6 separate regions of the Homo sapiens genome follow, and all the other regions are reported to be linked to region 4. Evidence: microRNA targets listed by miRTarBase, many of them from high-throughput screens and not tested one by one. Region 4 holds a microRNA gene; each other region holds the end of a gene's coding sequence.

Region 1 (3,092 bases), not on the chromosome of region 4:
CAGCAGCAGCCCCCAGGGGGCCAGGCCAAGGCCCGGCCTGCCAAGAGGAAGGCGGGCACGTCCCCAAGACCCTCCACAGATGTGTGTCCAGACCCTCTGGGCATCTCAGATTCCTACAGTCCCCCTCTGCCCGGCCCCTCAGGCTCCCCAACCACGGCAGTGGCCACTGTGTCCATCTGGAGCCCAGCCTCAGAGTCCCCTTTGCCTGAGGCGCAGCGGGCTGGGCTGGTGGCCTCAGGGCCGTCTCTGACCTCCGCCCCCTATGCCATGACCTACGCCCCGGCCTCCGCTTTCTGCTCTTCCCCCTCCGCCTATGGGTCTCCGAGCTCCTATTTCAGCGGCCTAGACCCCTACCTTTCTCCCATGGTGCCCCAGCTAGGGGGCCCGGCTCTTAGCCCCCTCTCTGGCCCCTCCGTGGGACCTTCCCTGGCCCAGTCCCCCACCTCCCTATCAGGCCAGAGCTATGGCGCCTACAGCCCCGTGGATAGCTTGGAATTCAAGGACCCCACGGGCACCTGGAAATTCACCTACAATCCCATGGACCCTCTGGACTACAAGGATCAGAGTGCCTGGAAGTTTCAGATCTTGTAGAGGACGCAGTCTCCATCTCTCTCCATCGGGCCTCGGGACCCTTTCTCTTCTGAATCTGCTTCCCTGCAGTTTAGATCCCGGGATGGCATTCCTGAGAAAGCAACCCGAACCAGCTGTCCTTCTGACAGCTCGGTGTTCAGCTTACAGAGACCACCCCTTTCCTCCACAGGGAGAGGCTCCTCCCTCTCCTGGGACAGCTCACAGGTCCTAGTGATTCTCTCAACCCTAACACCGTCTGGCACGATTGTGACCGCTGAAGTACACCACGAGCTCCAGGCTTCAGAAAGTGGTGCTGAGAACTTGCTCCAAGAAGAAGTCAAACCAAACTTGCAGTTGATTTGGGGTCATGTTTAGGTCAGAATCACCGTGCCCTTGAACAAGCAGGTAGGGGGGCTTGATAACTTAACTTTCCACGTGGACAGAATTTTTTTTTTTGTTTTGTTTTTGTTTTGCAGACACAGTCTAGCTCTGTCGCCCAGGCTGGAGTGCAGTGGCACGATCTCAGCTCACTGCAAGCTCTACCTCCCGGGTTCACGCCATTCTCCTGCCTCAGCCTCCCGAGTAGCTGGGACTACAGATGCCCACCACCAGGCCCGGCTAATTTTTTTTGTATTTTTAGTAGAGACGGGGTTTCACCGTGTTAGCCAGGATGGTCTCGATCTCCTGACCTCGTGATCCGCCCGCCTCGGCCTCCCAAAGTGCTAGGATTACAGGCGTGAGCCACCGCGCCCGGCCCTTTTTTTTTTTTTTTTTTTTAATTGAGACGGAGTCTCACTCTTTTGCTTAGGCTGGAGTGCAGTGGTGTGATCTCAGCTCACTGACTGCAACCTCCACCTCCCGGGTTGAAGCGTTGCTCCTGCCTCAATCTCCCAATTAGCTGGGATTACAGGTGTGCTCCATCATGCCCGGCTAATTTTTCTATTATTAGTAGAGACAGGGTTTTACCATGTTGGCCAGGCTGGTCTGGAACCCCTGACCTCAAGTGATCCGCCTGCCTCGGCCTCCCAAAGTGCTGGGATTACAGGCATGAGCCATTGTGCCTGGCCCTACACGTGGACACTTCTTTAGCATATGGTTAGGGACCTTTCTAGAAATTCCAAAGACAGACTTTAAGAAGCCCCGTCGGGAAACCTTAGGCCAATGATGTGGTTACATTAAAAATAAATTATCTGGGAATTTCACAGACTTCACAAATGTCAGGCTTACATGGTAGGTTTAGGGGACCGTTTGAGAGACAAAGATCTACATTCATATATGTAGCTATACATATATGTACTTTTTCTTCTTAGTTTCTTTTTAAAGACATTTTATCACTCATTCGCTCATTAGCACATTGGGAATGTGTGTATTTGGTAGGGAAATGAAAGGCACCTTGCCTGTTCCATCTCTACTCCTTTTTTCTTTTGTTTTAGGATTTTCTAAAGGTGAGACACTGGTGGAACTGGGGTAGCTGCTTGGGACGTACCACCTATAGTTGTGGCTATTTCACAGAGAAGCAGCAGCTAGACAGACTCCCATCTGTAAATAAACAAGAGATAGGAAGAGGGGGAAATAGATTTGGAGGAGGCAGCCCTACATTTCAAACATACATTCCCTTTTTTAGATTTTTTTTTTTTTTTTTTTGGTTTTCAGTTTTGATGGTGGGATTGGAAAATAGAGCTTGGCTTGAGGACATTTTCCTGGGGTGGCACCATTATTTCTTGAAATAGAATCTTACTTATGGTGACACTGGCAAGCACTTGTGAGAACCTGAAGACGGATTGAGGTCATTTGATGCTCAGAAGTTGGGTGCTGGGTCCCTGCCTTCTCAGTCCGAGTTCTCCTTTCATTTTTGGGTGGGGAGGCGGGTTCCAAGAGCCCTTCATTGGTGGAGTTCACAAGGCAAGGTGTAAAAAAAAAAGTAGGGCAGGAAGACAGTGGTGTGCTGGCAGAGGTCTAACAATGGGCTCTCCAAGGAAGAGGAAAAGGTTGGTTGTGGAGTGTTTGTCAGTTTCCGTGGTGTAAATACTCCCACCACGGCTGACTTCAAGCTAGCAACCGGAGGTCACTGAACTAAGAGTTGGGAAGAGATAGGGCACAATATATGCTTACGAGTTGGTACACACCGTCAGCAGCAGCCAGGGTCAGGAGAAAGGCGAGATGTGAAGAGAGGCCGGGAGGTATCAGATGACGTTTCCAGCACTAGACCAGAAGAGGTGCACACAGCCTAGACCCCCTGAGGGGTACACCCTGATCTCTAGAGCCCACAAAGAGGTTTTTATTCAACATAAAACGTGTTCATCTCTCATAGGCCTGAGTCATGCTGGGTTCTGGGACATTAAGCCCAGGAGTGGGCCGGGTGCGGTGGCTCACGCCTGTAATCCCAGCACTTTGGGAGGCCGAGGCGGGTGGATCACCTGAGGTCAGGAGTTCGAGACCAGCCTGGCCAACATGGTGAAACCCTGTCTCTACTAATAATACAAAAATTAGCCGGGCATGGTGGCACGCGCCTGTAATCCCAG
Region 2 (3,105 bases), not on the chromosome of region 4:
GGCTCACTGCAACCTCCGCCTCCCGGGTTCAAGTGATTCTTCTGTCTCAGCCTCCCGAGTAGCTGGGATTACAGGCATGTGCCACCACGCCCAGCTTATTTCATATTTTTAGTAGATACGGGGTTTCTCCATGTTGGTCAGGCTGGTCTCAAACTCCCGACCTCAGGTGATCTACCCGCCTCGGCCTCCCAAAGTGCTGGGATTACAGGCGTAAGCCACTGTGCCCAGCCTCAGGTGTTCTTTTAGCACTGTACCTTTACACTTGGTTCCCTCTGCTTGGTGTATTTTCTCTACTTTCCCTTGTCTTAAAAGATCCAGCTCATCAACCTCTTCCCTATGCTCCTAATGTTACCCTTACAAAGGATGCCTTGTGTTGGTATGGCAAGCCCTCAGCACATGGCAGCTGAATGAAAGGCTGACCCAGAGGAGGTCAGGTTTACTCACCTTGTCCCACACGACCAGTGACTGAGGATGACAGGGACACAGGCCTCAGGAGACCCTGGGAACTGTAGTGAGCAGTAGGTGGGGCTGGAGGACCCTTGGCTGATAGGAGAGTTCCCTGTGCCCCACATAAGCGATTTGGGGATAAATTCTTTCAATGAAGTAGGAAGGACATGGAGGTAGAAGGAAGGAAGCCTAGGCTACGGCAGTCACCTCCTTTATAGAGAACTCTTAAGCATCAGTCTCCTCTGGGGTAGGAGGGAGCCTGGCATTTTGCACTTGTTTGGGTTGTTGGGGAGGTTGGCTGGGAGGGGAAGTCCTCATGCTTTAGCACTGGAAAAGGCAGAAGGAGCTGAACTGGGGATTCAGTTCTGCAGTCACCGTCCAACCTGTAGCCTTCTGCTAGACCCCCACTGCCCATCTCCCTTGGGACCTACAGACACCCCACATCACAGGATTCAAGTTTGGGTTGTCCTGACCAAAATTTCCTTCCCAGCCCCCAGTAAGTACAACCTCCTGGCAGTTTAGGGTGAAAGGCAGCCCAATGACAACTGGCTTGGCTGGGCGCTACTAGGTTCTTTTCTCTTCAGCTCTCAACATAGGGAAAAAGGGAAATATGTGCCAGGGCCCAAGGGCCCAGAATGTTGCCCAAGACAATCTTCCTTGAGTTTTTGTGGGCGTGGTGTTATTTCTGCAGAGCTCAGAGGAAGTCAAATTCTTCACTTTCTGCTCAAAGCCACAGGCTCTCCAGAATTTTAACACAAGTAAGAAGAAAGAAACTCTCAACCATACAAGGGGTATATCAAGACATCATTAAAGTGGCTGGGTGCAGTGGGTCACGCCTGTAATCCCTGCACTTTGGGAGGCTGAAAGTGGGTCACGCCTGTAATCCCTGCATTTTGGGAGGCTGAAGCGGGTGGATCACCAAGTCAAGAGATCAAGACCATCCTGGCCAACATGGTGAAACCCCATCTCTACTAAAAATACAAAAATTAGCTGGGTGTGGTGGCACATGTCTGTAGTCACAGCCACCCGGGAGGCTGAGGCAGGAGAATCGCTTGAACCAGAGAGTTGGAGGTTGCAGAGCCAAGATCGCGCCACTGCACTCCAGCCTGGTGACAGGAGCGAGACTCGGTCACAAGAAAAAAAAAAAAAAACATCATTAAAGTAGCCATGGCATTTTGAGGCACCTCAAATAAAGAGAGTCCTGGGTGGATTTAAGCGAACAGTTTGTTATAATGAACCAGAAATACAAGATTCCACTGAAACTGAACAGTTGACAGAATATGGTTGAACTTAAACCTTCAAGGGAAACAAGGGCAAAACAAAGCTAATGAGTGGAAAAGTCCAAGATTAGTTTGGGATAAACATGAGGATATAATTGCATTTTAGCATGGCTATCTTCTGACCTCTTCCAGCAGTTCGTCTGCCATCATTCTCCCTTCTGACACACCTACCAAATCAAATGGCTTCTGATCCTCTATATTGCAGTATAAACCAACCCTATAGTACCCCTCTGGTCATGATACAAACCCAGAAGGAAAGTCTGTAAATCTCATACAAAGGTAGAAAGTGCAATTCAACCCAACACGCTGGTTATGGTATATGTGCTGTCAATGTACATGGTAGCAACTTGAATCAAACCAGAGCTGCTACCACATGTAAGCAACCTCTTATGCTGCCCTGTAGTGATGTCAATGTTCTCAGTTTACTAAATTATCAATGTGGAAGAACGCATTTTTGAGCTCCAGACCTTCTAAACATTTTAAACAGGCTATCGAAGAGGATGTAACAGAACCCTATTTCAGAAACCTAAGGATCAGGGAGGAAGGAACACTGACCGGTTTTTCTGGGATGTTTCTGTGGGGGCAACAGGGATGAACAAAAGAAATGTTAGCATGTCAGAGCATATGACAAGTGAGGGGAGACAGAGGTAGGAAGAGGGTGTTCTAGCCACAAGGCTAATGCATTTGTGTTCAAAGAGAAGTCTGGGCAAAGGAGGGGAAACCCCCCCTCCCCCCTAAAAAAACAAAAACAAAAAACCAAATCAAAGGACAAAAGGGTTTCATACAACACAGTATCAAAAAGTAAAAGGAACACACTAAATGCACAAGCTGGTGGCAAGTAAGTCCACAGCCTATTGTGATAGGTCCATCCAGCATCAATCAGATTTCTTCTCATCTGTTATCTCAAGGTTATTTACAGATGTGTTGACTAACAAGAGTCTCTCATGGGAGGATGGGCAGGCTTCAATCATTGGTTTCGGGATCTGTCTGCGCCATGTAGGCATCCAACTCAGCATCCAGGTGTCCTTTTGTTTTCGACATATATGCATCCAATTGGTTGTCCAGCTGCTCCTTGGTCAATACAGGGCGAGCAAGGGCACCTCTCCCTCGTCCACGGCCTCGGCCTCGGCCTCCAAAGCCCCCTCTTCCCCGACCTATCATACCCCGACCTGGCCCAAAGGGGAAAAAAAAAAAAAAAGAGACAGTTACAAGTAAGTTTAATAGGTGCTGTAGTAAATGCCCCTTAGAGCAGTGGGGCCTAGCTGAGAAAAGCTGAAGGGCAGGGCAAAGAGGAGAAATCTGGAAAAAAAGGAAACACAATGGGTAGAAAGCAACACATGGAAAGCACACATAATGAATCCTCTATCACATGATCATC
Region 3 (3,105 bases), not on the chromosome of region 4:
CTTTTGAAAATTATATATTGGGGCACATTTGGAATGGCCCCTATAATGCTATTCTTTGATATGTTTTAAAGGGGGAGAAAAAAGGTGGCATCATGACAAGCATACCAGAATTGCAAAAGCTATGACCTTATTTATGTACACCCAGTGGAGGTGTTGATACCTTTGAAAGGGGCTGTTTTAGCACTTAGTGTGGTATATGATATAGACCATGAGATCATGCTTGTTTTATATCTAGGATCTTCTGCACTAATACGTGGAAAAGAAACCTAAAAAGCCATTGTATGTTGGGCTTTGTTTTTCAGGAGCCGAGGAGTGCTCCACCAATTTTCCGGAACGGAGACGAACAAAATCTGGCCCTACGTTTACACACTTTTCTCAAACAAGATCACACCTATTCAGTCCAAAGAAGCATATTGACCCTGCCCAATGGAAGAACCAGGAAGATGTGGTCATTCATTCAATAGTGTGTGTAGTATTGGTGCTGTGTCCAAATTAGAAGCTAGCTGAGGTAGCTTGCAGCATCTTTTCTAGTTGAAATGGTGAACTGATAGGAAAACAAATGAGTAGAAAGAGTTCATGAAGAGGCCCTCCTCTGCCTTTCAAAAGGCTGGTCACCTACACATGTTTAAGGTGTCTCTGCACATGTCTCAAGCCCATCACAAGAAAGCAAGTACAGTGTGGATTTCAAATGGTGTGTAACTTCAGCTCCAGCTGGTTTTTGACAGCTGTTGCTGTGGTAATATTTTTGACATGTGATGGTGATAGTCTCTGGTTCTCCCCATCCCCACAAAGGCTGTTGAACCACAGCACCAGGAAGCCTGAGAATGAATCCTGAGGGCTCTAGCCCAGGCTTTGTCCCAGGCTTTCTGGTGTGTGCCCTCCTGGTAACAGTGAAATTGAAGCTACTTACTCATAGTGGTTGTTTCTCTGGTCTTGAGTGACTGTGTCCACAGTTCATTTTTTTCCGGTAGGAATAACTCCTTTTCTACATCCACGCTCCATAGAGTCTCTCCTTTTCAGACATCCTGGGATGAAAGAATTTGGCTTTTTTTTTTCTTTTTTTTTTTGGACATCTGTTTTCACTCTTAGGCTTTTAAACAATAGTTATTGCTTTTATCCCTCTCAGATTCTAATAACTGAGAGCGATGGGGCTATATTGAATCTCTGTATGCACTGAGAACTGAGCTATGAAGAGGATCTTATTAAACTGCTGGTCTGACTTTATGGATTGACACTGTTCCTTTCTTTTATTGTGAAAAAAAAAAAAAACCCTGAAAGTCTTGGGAACCCCCTAAAGTCTTTTGGGAATCCTCAAAAAGCATGGGAAGTTAAGTATTTAGCTACATAAATGTTGTAAGATCATATCTTATGTATAGAAGTAATAAGACCATTTGGAATTACTGGACTAATTGAATAGTTAAGGTTTCTATTCGGGACAATAAAATGTATTTTGAAAGTGCTGCTAACTATTGATGCTGACAGTGTTTCACTCCTATGAGTGACCCAAACATATTATAAATATGTGGTAAAGGGAATGGAGCCTGTGGGGTTGAGCAGAATGTTGTACTAGCTGTGCCTGGACTGAGTATAACAGCTTTATGATTATGAGAAAACAAATTCTTTATTTTTTTTTTCTGTTCCAAAGATTCATCCTATGGGGTGGCCATAAAGTCTAGAATTAGATACTAATATTTTGTCATTCATTATAACATATCAATAAACCATTTGTTAAAAGATTTGCCTGGTTTCCAGACTTGGTGGCCACCTTGAATAATTCTTGCTGTCTTCTGGGAAGGATGATGAAATTTATTCCTGCTGCCTTAAAAATATGTATCCCTTCTTCACCCATCATGACTGTCCCCAGTGAGTGTCCTTTACTATTCTTGGGAGTGACTCCTGTCTAACTTTTCATACTGGCGAGAAGAAAAGAAGCCTATTTTAACACTTTAGTGGTGTTGAAACACATTACTTACTTTCTGAAGATGTCCCAGTGAATCCTCTGTCAATTCACTGCCATATGTAATCTATATGATAAGGAATGCATCTTCCTTCTAAGTACTGCCCAAACTCTTGCCAGCTCCTCTCCCATTGTCCCTTCATGTGAATATTTCTTGGCTACCTTAGTGGAAATATAGATCAGTTTTCTCCCCATCCATCCTCTCAAACATAATGAGATTGTTTACTTTTTAGATTTATGCAGTGAAAATGCCCAGTCAGGTCTGAATCGTCAGTGCATTATATTGACTCTGAGCACTTTAGAATTTAGAGTTGCAATTGAATGCCAGCTGTGGAGATGGGGTGCATATCAGATATATAAATAAAGCTCAGGTTTGCTAGGGAACCAGGTATAGAGAAAAATAAGTCTGATATGAGGAAAATTGCACAATTTAGAGTAGTTATGCCGTAGAGAAAATTTCCACAAACTAGGAAATGTAGAGAGTTATTCTATAGAATACTCAAAAGAGGAAAGTATGTGATTTTTGGAAACAGGAAAATCTTCAAACTTCTTTCTTCACTTCCCTTTGTGTTTAGCTGACCCTCCAATGTGATCATTGCCTTTGGAGTTTGGGAGAGGTACGGGAAGTGGCCTGATCCCTGCTTCCATACTTCACTCCTCCATCCATCCTTCCCTCCCTCTTCCCCTCCAGCTAAATGGACAATTCTAGCCAACATTGAGTCACTCAATAAGTCTCAACAGTGGGTGTGTTTGCTGAGATTGTCCAGCGGTTGAGCAGTTTGGTCTCACCTCCCTCGCTAGTTGAGACCAAAAAGAGACAAATAACTTTTTCATGGTCTTTGAAACATAATGCTTATTTCGTGGTCAATGGCTTTAAAAAAATCTGTTTCTTGTTTTCTTCAACAAACTCACTAGTTTTCCCTTAAATGATATTGTAAAAATTAAAGTAATCTTGAAAATGTTTTGACAAAAGTAAAATTAAAGGGACATCTTTTCTTGTTTTGTTTTTTTTTTTTCTATTGCCACACATGACCGTTCCTTCACCTTTAAGCAAAGAGAGTGGTTCAGATGGTTTCTAAGATGCCAACCTGACCTCGCATTCTGTCATTCTACCCAGCTCTTAATTCAATTTGCTTCCATTATCCTAA
Region 4 (3,105 bases):
AATAATTAAACAAAAGCTCAAGAGTAGTACTTGACAGGATCTTTTTAAAATTAATGTTGAATGCAGGTGCCTGAGGAAAAGTAAATTTAAGTATTGAAGTGGAAGATACAGAACTTCTGTCAAAATGCTGAAAGGACCTGGTTACAAATGGAGGCTTAAAATGTTTATATTACTGATTGTTAATTATGTCTAATTTACTTAGAAAGTTAAGTCTCATCTGGGCATGGTGACTCTTATTCATAATCCCACCATTTTAGGAGGCTGAGGCAGAAGGATCACTTGAGCTCAGGAGTTTTAGATCAGCCTGGGCAAAATGGTGAAACCCTGTCTTTACAAACATTAAAAAAAGAAAAAAAATCAGTCAGGAGTAGTGATGTGTGCCTGTAGTCCCAGCAACATGGGAGGCTGTGTTGGGAGGATCACTTGAGCTTAGGAGGCCAAGGCTGGGCTGCAGTGAGCCACGATTGTGCCACTGCACTGTAGCCTGGGCAACAGAGTGAGACCCTGTCTTCAAAACTAAACAAAACAAAGACAAAGAAAGAACTATTGTTCCTAAAACTAGCCTGAAGCTTGTCGTCTATTATTGAGTTCTTATTTTAATCAAATAAAATTAGTACATGCCATTTTTTCTTAGTAATCTCCTCACAGCACTAGGAAAACTTCACTCTTTCAGACATCTCAAATATTTCTGACATTTTCCTTTTCTAAAACAAAACATGTTTATTACAAAACATACCATAACATAGACAGTCATATCTATAAAATGATGGAATTCTGCCATTAATGGATACTATTATATCTATCTTACTATTATGCCTCAAGCCATGCCAAGATGAAACATTTAGTATCTTTTTTTTCTTGATCTCAAACTCAGGGTGCTTCAGGTAAGGGGTAAATACTTTTCTATGTGACTGTAACCTAAACTTCCACAAGTCATCAAAACTACGTAAAAACGAATTCACATGTGTGGTAATAACATTACTACATCACATTTTTTACTGGCTCTTGTTTTCAGAAGCTTGCAGAGACTCTGTACTTTTGCAAATGTCCTCCCTGTTGTTGTTGTTGTTGTCATTGTTGTTGTTGTGGTTGTGGTTTTTAACTCAGGAGACTTTTTGCATGTGCTCACAAATAAGTTCAAGAAACTACTACCTCAGCCATTATGCGTTTGATCTACACTTTAGCTTCTGGGCAGTACTTTCTCTCCTGGGCTCTGCTATTGCCTCTACTGGAAAGCACCATATTATTAAGGCAAAAGTTTAGTTTTATGAAGGTGTCACTGCTTCTTCCAGACACAGGCGCCATTTGCATTAGGGATCATCTTGTGTATAAGTTATTAGGGATTGTCTTGTGTATAAGTTATCTTATCACTCTGGCTGCTCCTGACAATGTTGAATTTTACCAGAAACCTGTACTCCTGGAAAACAGCAAAGGTTAAAAAATCCCCCCAGTCTTGTGTCTTCCAGGAAATGGTTCACTGCAAAGAACCACACTTCTTCCTACGACTTATATAAGATTTATGGGTGCCTTCCTTATTTACCCATGACAAAGCTGGACACAGATCTTCTGAATTCCTATTCTTTGAGTCATATAAAATTAGTTGATGAGCAGTCAGGCACCCATCTTTGGTTGATGAACTTAGATTCCTATGTCTTAATCTCGATCAAAAAGTGTTCTTTAGGGAAGAATTTTGAGATATTTGGAACCGAATTCAATGTTTTACAAACGTACCTCTTATGTTTTTATAGCATCTATTGATATGCTATTCTAAGATGAGGACAAACACACCAATATAATTTAGTAAATAGTAGTTGATAAAAGTTCTATATCCACACAGCTATTTTAAGTGAGTCAGTTGCATCCTAAAGGAAAGAGAAAAAAATATTTAGAGCAAAAAGAAAGACAGATCTTTCTTTTTTTTTTCTGTCATAGCTATACGTTCTCTGGCTGACATACACTCATAATTCAGTATGTACTTATTGAATAAAGTCAGGAAGTTGTTGTGTAATGTAATGATATAATATGCTTCAGAGAATGAAAACAAACCAATTCTATATTACAAATCTGAAAATGGACAACCACTGGCAATAGACTTTCTATGTCATAAAAGTAAAGAAAAATATAGTTGGGTCTATTGTAGATTAATAGAGATTTAAGAACCAACACAACCAAATACAATGTGTGATTCTTGATTGACTCCAGGTGTGAGCAAATCAGCTATAAATACACTTTTAGAATATCTGAATATGCTCAAATATAGAATTTGTGGGTATTTTGTAATATTATGTGATTTGTCTCAATTATTTTAGCTGTAATAATAGCACTGCAGCAAAATTTGAGAATATTAATTTTTGGAGATATATGCTTGAAGTATTTAGAATGAAGTACCAATGTATCTATAATTTACTTTAAAAAGAACATATACCTAGTGATGCAAATATAGAAAAATAGAAACAGCTTTTGCATATAGACTTGGGTATAGAGTGTATTACACTCTGTATTTTTCCAAATGTGTAATAGAATGTCCATGCCTATCGTAAAAAAGATAGAATAGAAGGAAAATAAAATATTTGAATAAATAAGATAAAAATAATAAAGTATCTATATACCTACCACTTGCTCATTTCAAAAAGGAAAGACACTTAAAAAGTTTCCTTAACACACGTGAAGCTTCTGAGAGTAAGGGAGACAACAACGCCTCCTCTAGACAAAAATGTCAGAAGGAGAGCTCTGCAAATGCCTCCCTAGCCAAAGTAAGGTGAATGGTGTAGTTAGCCAAGGAGCAAGATCGGCATGTTCTCAAGGGCTAGCATCCTATTTTCCCTGAAATCTGTACCAAAATATCTTTAGTCCTTTAAAAAATACCAAAATTAGTTTTAATAAAAAATCCATGAGTTACTTAATATTATTCTATTGGTAAATATTTTTATAAACTTACAATAATTTCATAATAAAATTTTATGGTATAGATGTGTGCATGTGAGTGTGCGTGTGTATGTGAGTGTGTGTGTGTGTGTGTGTAAGTGATTGTTTCCTTAGGATAATTTCCTACTAGTAAAATTGCTGCACAAAAGGTCTGAACATTTTTGCATTTCTTAATTAAGG
Region 5 (3,102 bases), not on the chromosome of region 4:
GGAATAAAGTTAGTGAGAAAAGAGGGTGGTCTGGATGACAGTGTTTTCATTGCAGTTAAAGAAATTGGTCGTGATCTGTACAGGGGCTTGCCTACAGAGGAAAGGATCCAGAAACTAGAGTTCATGTTGGATAAGCTACAGAATGAAATTGATCAGGAGTTGGAACACAATAATTCCCTTGTTAGAGAAGAAAAAGAGACAACTGATACAAGGAAAAAATCACTTCTTTCTGCTGCCTTAGCTAAATCAGGTGAAAGGCTACAAGCTCTAACACTTCTTATGATTCACTACAGAGCAGGCATTGAAGATATAGAAACTTTAGAAAGTCTGTCTTTAGACCAGCACTCCAAAAAAATAAGCAAGTACACAGATGATACAGAAGAAGACCTTGATAATGAAATAAGCCAACTAATAGACTCTCAGCCATTCAGCAGCATATCAGATGACTTATTTGGCCCATCCGAGTCTGTGTAGCAGACAGGTCTATTTAAGCTTTCAAATGAACAGGGTAAAGTTGCATCTAAAGTACCACAGATACAACCATGTTTAAATCCTCGTATGCACTCTGGCCTGCTTCTCCAGTTACTTGCTTGTGTAAGAACAAAAATGAGAAAGGTTGTTTTCCAGTAAAAACATGACCAGCTTACTAATTGGTTGTTTTGGATTGCATTTATAGCTATGCTTTTTTGGGTTTATACTGGGAATTTATTTTTACTAAATTATTTAACTTTTCTAATTATGTAATTATGTAAGCTAGCTTTTCATGTTTATGTATGTATGGTGTCCCCTTGTGTTATTTTTCTTCCTCTTGGTTTTTGAATTAGTGTTAAATAGAATACTGTCTAGATTCTTAAAATATTTTCATTTCCATCATGGTTATAACAAATTTGCTGCATGCCCAAACTGACAACAGCAATCACTGAGGGAACAGGTTTTGAATCTTTCTTTTGTGTTATGAAGTTTATCGTCTCTACTTGCTTGAGATTTTTGTTATTTTGGGGGTTTGGGGGTGCTTTTTGTTTTGTTTTTGCCAAATGTAACATGAAAGCAGATGCTGCAGCTTTAGTCTGTTATGCTGATTTAGTAAAAAAAAATTTTTTACATATATTGCTTGCTTTCGATGCTTCTGTGAAATTTTTTTCTAAAGCTTTTGTGCAGCTGTATGGTAAAAATATGGTGATTAATTTGAAGAGCTTACATTGAAAGACAATGTAATAGGAAATAAATGTAGATTGCAGTTGGTCAAGAATTTTGTAGAGAGGATAACAAGACTTAATTACTGAAAAACAGTAACATAGCATTTTGAAATATAATCTTTTAAAATATTGATGCTTTCCTTTTAAATGGAAATTTAAATTTTATAATTAAAAGTTTAAACATTTATGATAATTTTCCTCATCAGTTCTCCCATAGGAAATAAAGCATGTGAAAGGGTATTTAAAGTTTTGGAGGACTCTTTTTAAAATGACTGTGTTGATAACTAGTTTGGGCTGGTTTTGTTTTAGAAAAAACATTTTCATGTAGGAGTATTCTGTGAAGGAAAGGAATCATGCAAAATATACTTTTTGCTTTGGCGTCTTACAGTTGTAAAGGAATGGTGATCATTCTGAATACTTCTGTAGTGAGTATTCATTAAGAAAAGAATGACAAAAATAGTATTCATACATAGGAATTGGGACCAGTTCTCTGAAAATGAAGATATACTCACACTGGGTCCATTTTACGGGTCCCAGTAACATTTGACTGAGGGAAAACAAGTAAGCTCGACTGTTGTTGGGGTACCTTAATGGTTTCGGTCTGTTATATACCTATAAAATAGACAAGTATATGTTTGTCCCTTTGTAGGTAACTGCTATGATGATTGCTATATAGTGAAACTGACATGAGTTTAAAACTAGATGGAGCAGCTTTTATTGCTGGCAGGAAAAAGCATGGTGTAATATTAAGGACTGGGGCCCAGGTCTAGACTCCAGGACTCCATAAAAGAGTTTAAGTTCAAGCCCTTCCATTAATGAACTGTGTAAGCATAGGCAGTTACAAAAGGACCCATCTCTAAAATGGGAATAATAATACTTTACCTCCCTCACAGTATTGTTGTGAGGGAAACAATAGCATAACTGCAAAAGTGCTTTGAACAGTAAAAAGATATACAAGTAAAAGGCATTATTTATATGAGTAAGAAAGACATTTTTGAGGGGAGAAAAGTTATTCCACTTTAAAAATCAATAGCCAAGTCTCATGCCTTTTGTTACTTTAGTAAGCGAAAATTTCAGGTACTAAATACCTTTCTTAGCCAAGTTTATAACAAAAACATCTCAGTATACTTCATTACTTATTTAAGCGTGATGTCTTTTTTTTTTTTTTTTTTTTTTTTTTTTTTTTTTTTTTTTGAGACAGAGTCTCGCTGTCTCCCAGGCTGGAGTGCAGTGGCATGATCTCGGCTCACTGCAAGCTCCGCCTCCCAGGTTCACGCCATTCTCCTGCCTCAGCCTCCGGAGTAGCTGGGAGTACAGGCGCGGCTAATTTTTTGTATTTTTAGTAGAGACGGGGTTTCACCATGTTAGCCAGGATGGTCTCGATCTCCTGACCTCGTGATCCACCTGCCTCGGCCTCCCAAAGTGCTGGGATTACAGGCGTGAGCCACCACGCCCGGCCACGTGATCTTATTTTAAAAGAACACTGCTATAGAAGAATTTACACACCAAATTCCCTGAAAGCTAAAGTATTGTTCCATAACTTACACTTGAGGCAATCTGCTCAGTGTGTAACCACTTTATAAAAAATAACTTACCATTGATAACCTGGAAGGTGGACTACTTGTAAGTAGCTGGTGTTTATTGATTAAACCATGGAAGTTTTCATGATACCCAAGCATGTTGCTGAAACTGATGCATTTGAAAGAGCTGTTGAAATAATGCAAAACTTTGGTTTTATAAGAATCTACTCATGTTTTAAAAGTATTTAACTCTGTAGACCACAATTATAGAAAGCTCAGTAATGCTGCTAATGACATTTGTAAACTATATCTGTAATGTAGTGCAATATTTTTATATTTCACTGGGAGAGGCAGTAGAGACATCATAGTTGTACTTTAGTGCAAGT
Region 6 (3,105 bases), not on the chromosome of region 4:
GAAGGGTGAAAGGGCAAGAGTGGGACAGGCCAGGACTCCAGGTGTACACTCTACCCCGAGCCGACCACTTCAGGAGGAATTCCTGGGGAAATGCAAAATCATTTCCAAATCTTTTCCTTCCCCACCTTCCAGTCAAGCCATGAATCTCCATTTAAAGCAGCCACTCACTCCTTAGTTCTTTTAAACATTTATTTATCTACTGTACAAAATATTTACATCATCAGCTGCAACTGCCTGGCCCTTTCACCTGGCCTGACGAATCTGCAGCAGGGCTTGGTCTCTGCCAATTTTCCAGAAACATGCTGACACTCTCCTAGGTATTCACTCATGTCTGGTCTCCTTCAAAGACGCTAAAAGGCCAGAAGGGTAGCTGGCCCCCCAAGTACCTGGGTCACAAGGACATAAATAAAAGAACTGGCCAAAATAAGAAACACTAATAGAAAATTGCCCAAGAAATAACACTCTCTCATCTCTTTGACATATTGTACCTTTTCCCCACACTGGCTAGTATGAAAGCAGGATTAGAAAAAAAAAAAACAAAACAGTAAAAGAAAAGGCCCAAGAGAGCAAAGATACTTTTGAATAGAGTTCAGACAGAGAATAGAAAACCACAATAGTGCCAAAGGGTTTTGTTTAACAAAGACTGGTGCCTAAGGACCACCACAGGGATGCAGCTTCCCTGGTTGGGTTGCAATGGTGCCTAAGATGCTCTGAAAAAGTGCTATGACTAGAGCTTAAAATGACAGGTCTAGCCAAGACAATCAACTCAATCTCCAGGATCAGTCTCTGGAAGGCTGCCGGAGGGGAGAATTCAGAAAAGCGACTGCCAAAAACAGCAGAACCAGTCCACGTGCCCCCAGCTGGAAACCCCTTTCTGGGCCCAAGGGGCAGCATTATGTTTCCCAGGGTGGTGATAAACCTTCCGGTACATATCCCATGGGAAAACATTTGGGCAAGCAGCAGCACCTTGTCCTGGTCCCTGAGGAGAGCAGTGACCATGTGGCATGGAGGATCCTGGGGTATAGAGACCCTGATGCTGGATCCCGGACCCCAAGGATGAGTGAGGTCAGCACCCATGTGCCAAGAAAGGACAAATGATGACTGCGAAAGACTGAGGTCAGGCAGGAACTGTAGCAGCTCAGGAGGGCTTGTTCCTCATGATCCCTGCGAACAGGAGGGCTCAGACATGCTTCCAGGAGGCCAAGGCATTGCCAAAGTCCTGCCTTGTTTCAGGACTCTGTGTACTTGCTGGTTTTGGCAATAAAGATGGCTTGTAATATTCTCAGAGTTGACTGCCCCATTGGGAATGGTAGCTTGCAGCAAAGCCTTCTTAAAAACACAAATTTGGGAAGTCAATGAGATTTTGAATCTTGAAATTATTTTCAATCAAACAGTAATGAAAAAGGATGTTGTCATCTTCCAAGATACAGCAGCAGGTACTCTTCAATCATCATTCAACAGTGAACCTAATAAGCTTCCTCCCTCCTTAGTTCTCCTTCCTGATAACTGATGGAGCAAAGGGGAGTACAGGGGTTGGCAGGTGTTTACTGTGTAACATATCACCTCCATGTTCATCCCTAGTGTCCTGACGCCAAGGACCTGTGATAAGCACGTAAACTCCTAGTCCCTGTTCCTTTGTCTTAGTGCTGCCAGAGAACACCAAGCAGAGAGAGAATCAGGGATTGCTGGCATACTATTCTTACTGTTCTAATCTTTTGCTACAAAATTTTCTTCAGTAGAATGCTAAAGGATCCCCAGCTTTTAGCAGACTACATAATGGGGAAGTCAGTGGCCCAAGCCGGCCATACTTCAGTGCCAATAACAAACTCAGGGAAAAGCATCAGTAGTCTCCAAGCCAGCCATATGCCTAGGCATGCCCCACTCTGGAGGCTACAGCTCAGCTATCCTTCATATTCTTCAGTCTATCTGCTTTTCTCACTGGCTACAATTCAAGAAAAAGCTTACAGAGTTCTTCTTTGTGGATTAATAATCATTTCCAGAAATGCCCGAAGGGAAAGTGCTTTTTCCAGTTCTGACACCACAAAAAAATATTCTTTTTAGCAGTCCTTAGAGGCAGTCCAGTGCCATGGCCTATGCCTACCATTGTGCAGCGGGACTGCTCCTATGGGCCACCTCCTATCTGTCCCCCTCTCTCCTGGCTCCTGATGAGAAGAGGCAATCACCCCACCCATGAGAAGGACTCAAGTACCAGTCTGGTCAAGTAGTGAGGGCCAAAGAGGGTGTCTCCAAGGAGTATCAGCAGAGGGAGTTTTGGAGCACAGTGTGGATTTAAGGGTCTCCACACCAGTTTCCCAACAGGGCTGAGCCCCGTGTGCCATCTCCCTCAGCTACTGAGATCTTCAAAGGACCAAATAAATGATAGCAGCATGGTCCTCTTCTCATGACAGAATGAAGAGCTCAGCTTACATACCATGCCAAAGTGGCCTGTGGTAGATATGGGCAGGGAGCAGGTGAGGTAAAGACAAGGCTTGTAGGTGACAAAATCCTCCAGACACAGGGGAGCATGCGGCATCTTCTGGCTGATGGTTATGTGTGTTAGGATCAGTGGTTATGATGTCTGTAACTTGCGCCCAGAAGCTCCAGAGAGCATGGGAGCCAACTGGATGACAGGAGAGTGGTCAGAGCATGCCAAAGCCCTCGCAACCCTCGCTGATGGCCAGCTGCAGCATCCTGTGCACCTCTTCATAGGAGTCATATGTAGGGAGGCACAGCTGGTTAAAACTGGAAGGGCAAGGGAGAAGTGATTAACTCATACCACCAAAAACACTGGGCATGCATCAGGCGGGCAGATACCTACCATGTGTGTGCAGTAGGCAGCGTGCTATGGGTCGGAGCGGCAATAATCTGAAATGAGGGACAGAGGGCGGCAAAGCCTCCAGGTGGTAGCTGAGAGGAGCCTGTTGTGAACTGAAGTAGCCGAGCCAACTCCTCCTGGGTCAGACTGGAAACCACAGTCCAAAACCACCTCATGACCTGGCAGGGAGAGCACAAGGCTGGGATCACACACAGTAAACAAGCTAGGATTAGATCCCTGGGGAAGGAACAAGATACACTAAAGTGGGGCTGTGCCCCAGTTACCGTTCT

Evidence for each region. The annotated mature microRNA hsa-miR-4500 reads UGAGGUAGUAGUUUCUU and lies in region 4 at 1,140-1,156, opposite strand. An mRNA with a match to its seed (bases 2 to 7 or 8) in the 3' UTR can be bound and repressed. Matches are read on the target gene's strand: a 7mer-m8 pairs with bases 2 to 8, a 7mer-A1 pairs with bases 2 to 7 and ends in A, and an 8mer does both.
Region 1: miRTarBase lists CRX as a target of hsa-miR-4500. Seed matches in the 3' UTR shown: 7mer-m8 at 1,110-1,116.
Region 2: the mRNA of CHTOP is a reported target of hsa-miR-4500. Seed matches in the 3' UTR shown: 7mer-m8 at 2,372-2,378.
Region 3: the mRNA of AK4 is a reported target of hsa-miR-4500. The part of its 3' UTR that is shown has no 7-base or 8-base seed match.
Region 5: the mRNA of PDZD8 is a reported target of hsa-miR-4500. The part of its 3' UTR that is shown has no 7-base or 8-base seed match.
Region 6: the mRNA of AREL1 is a reported target of hsa-miR-4500. Seed matches in the 3' UTR shown: 7mer-A1 at 2,473-2,479.

Annotation. Positions count from the first base shown.
Region 1 is chr19:47,839,377-47,842,468 of GRCh38, forward strand. CRX (cone-rod homeobox) reads left to right here. Exons shown (of 4, transcript NM_000554.6): 4 at 1-3,092. The coding sequence ends at 591. Among named protein-coding and RNA genes, the nearest start is that of TPRX2, 18 kb to the right of the region's middle. RefSeq lists an enhancer at 179-704.
Region 2 is chr1:153,644,855-153,647,959 of GRCh38, reverse strand. CHTOP (chromatin target of PRMT1) reads right to left here. Exons shown (of 6, transcript NM_015607.4): 6 at 1,654-2,896. The coding sequence ends at 2,691. Among named protein-coding and RNA genes, the nearest start is that of SNAPIN, 12 kb to the left of the region's middle.
Region 3 is chr1:65,225,761-65,228,865 of GRCh38, forward strand. AK4 (adenylate kinase 4) reads left to right here. Exons shown (of 5, transcript NM_013410.4): 5 at 303-3,105. The coding sequence ends at 417. Among named protein-coding and RNA genes, the nearest start is that of AK4, 79 kb to the left of the region's middle.
Region 4 is chr13:87,617,532-87,620,636 of GRCh38, forward strand. MIR4500 (microRNA 4500) reads right to left here and starts at 1,209; the gene lies at 1,134-1,209. All of the region lies in intron 1 of LOC124900338 (formin-like protein 5), which reads right to left. All of the region lies in intron 1 of MIR4500HG (MIR4500 host gene), which reads right to left.
Region 5 is chr10:117,280,640-117,283,741 of GRCh38, reverse strand. It overlaps PDZD8 (PDZ domain containing 8), which reads left to right. Exons shown (of 5, transcript NM_173791.5): 5 at 1-3,102. The coding sequence ends at 474. Among named protein-coding and RNA genes, the nearest start is that of SLC18A2-AS1, 40 kb to the right of the region's middle.
Region 6 is chr14:74,661,081-74,664,185 of GRCh38, forward strand. It overlaps AREL1 (apoptosis resistant E3 ubiquitin protein ligase 1), which reads right to left. Exons shown (of 20, transcript NM_001039479.2): 19 at 2,819-2,994; 20 at 176-2,742. The coding sequence ends at 2,640. Among named protein-coding and RNA genes, the nearest start is that of LTBP2, 50 kb to the left of the region's middle.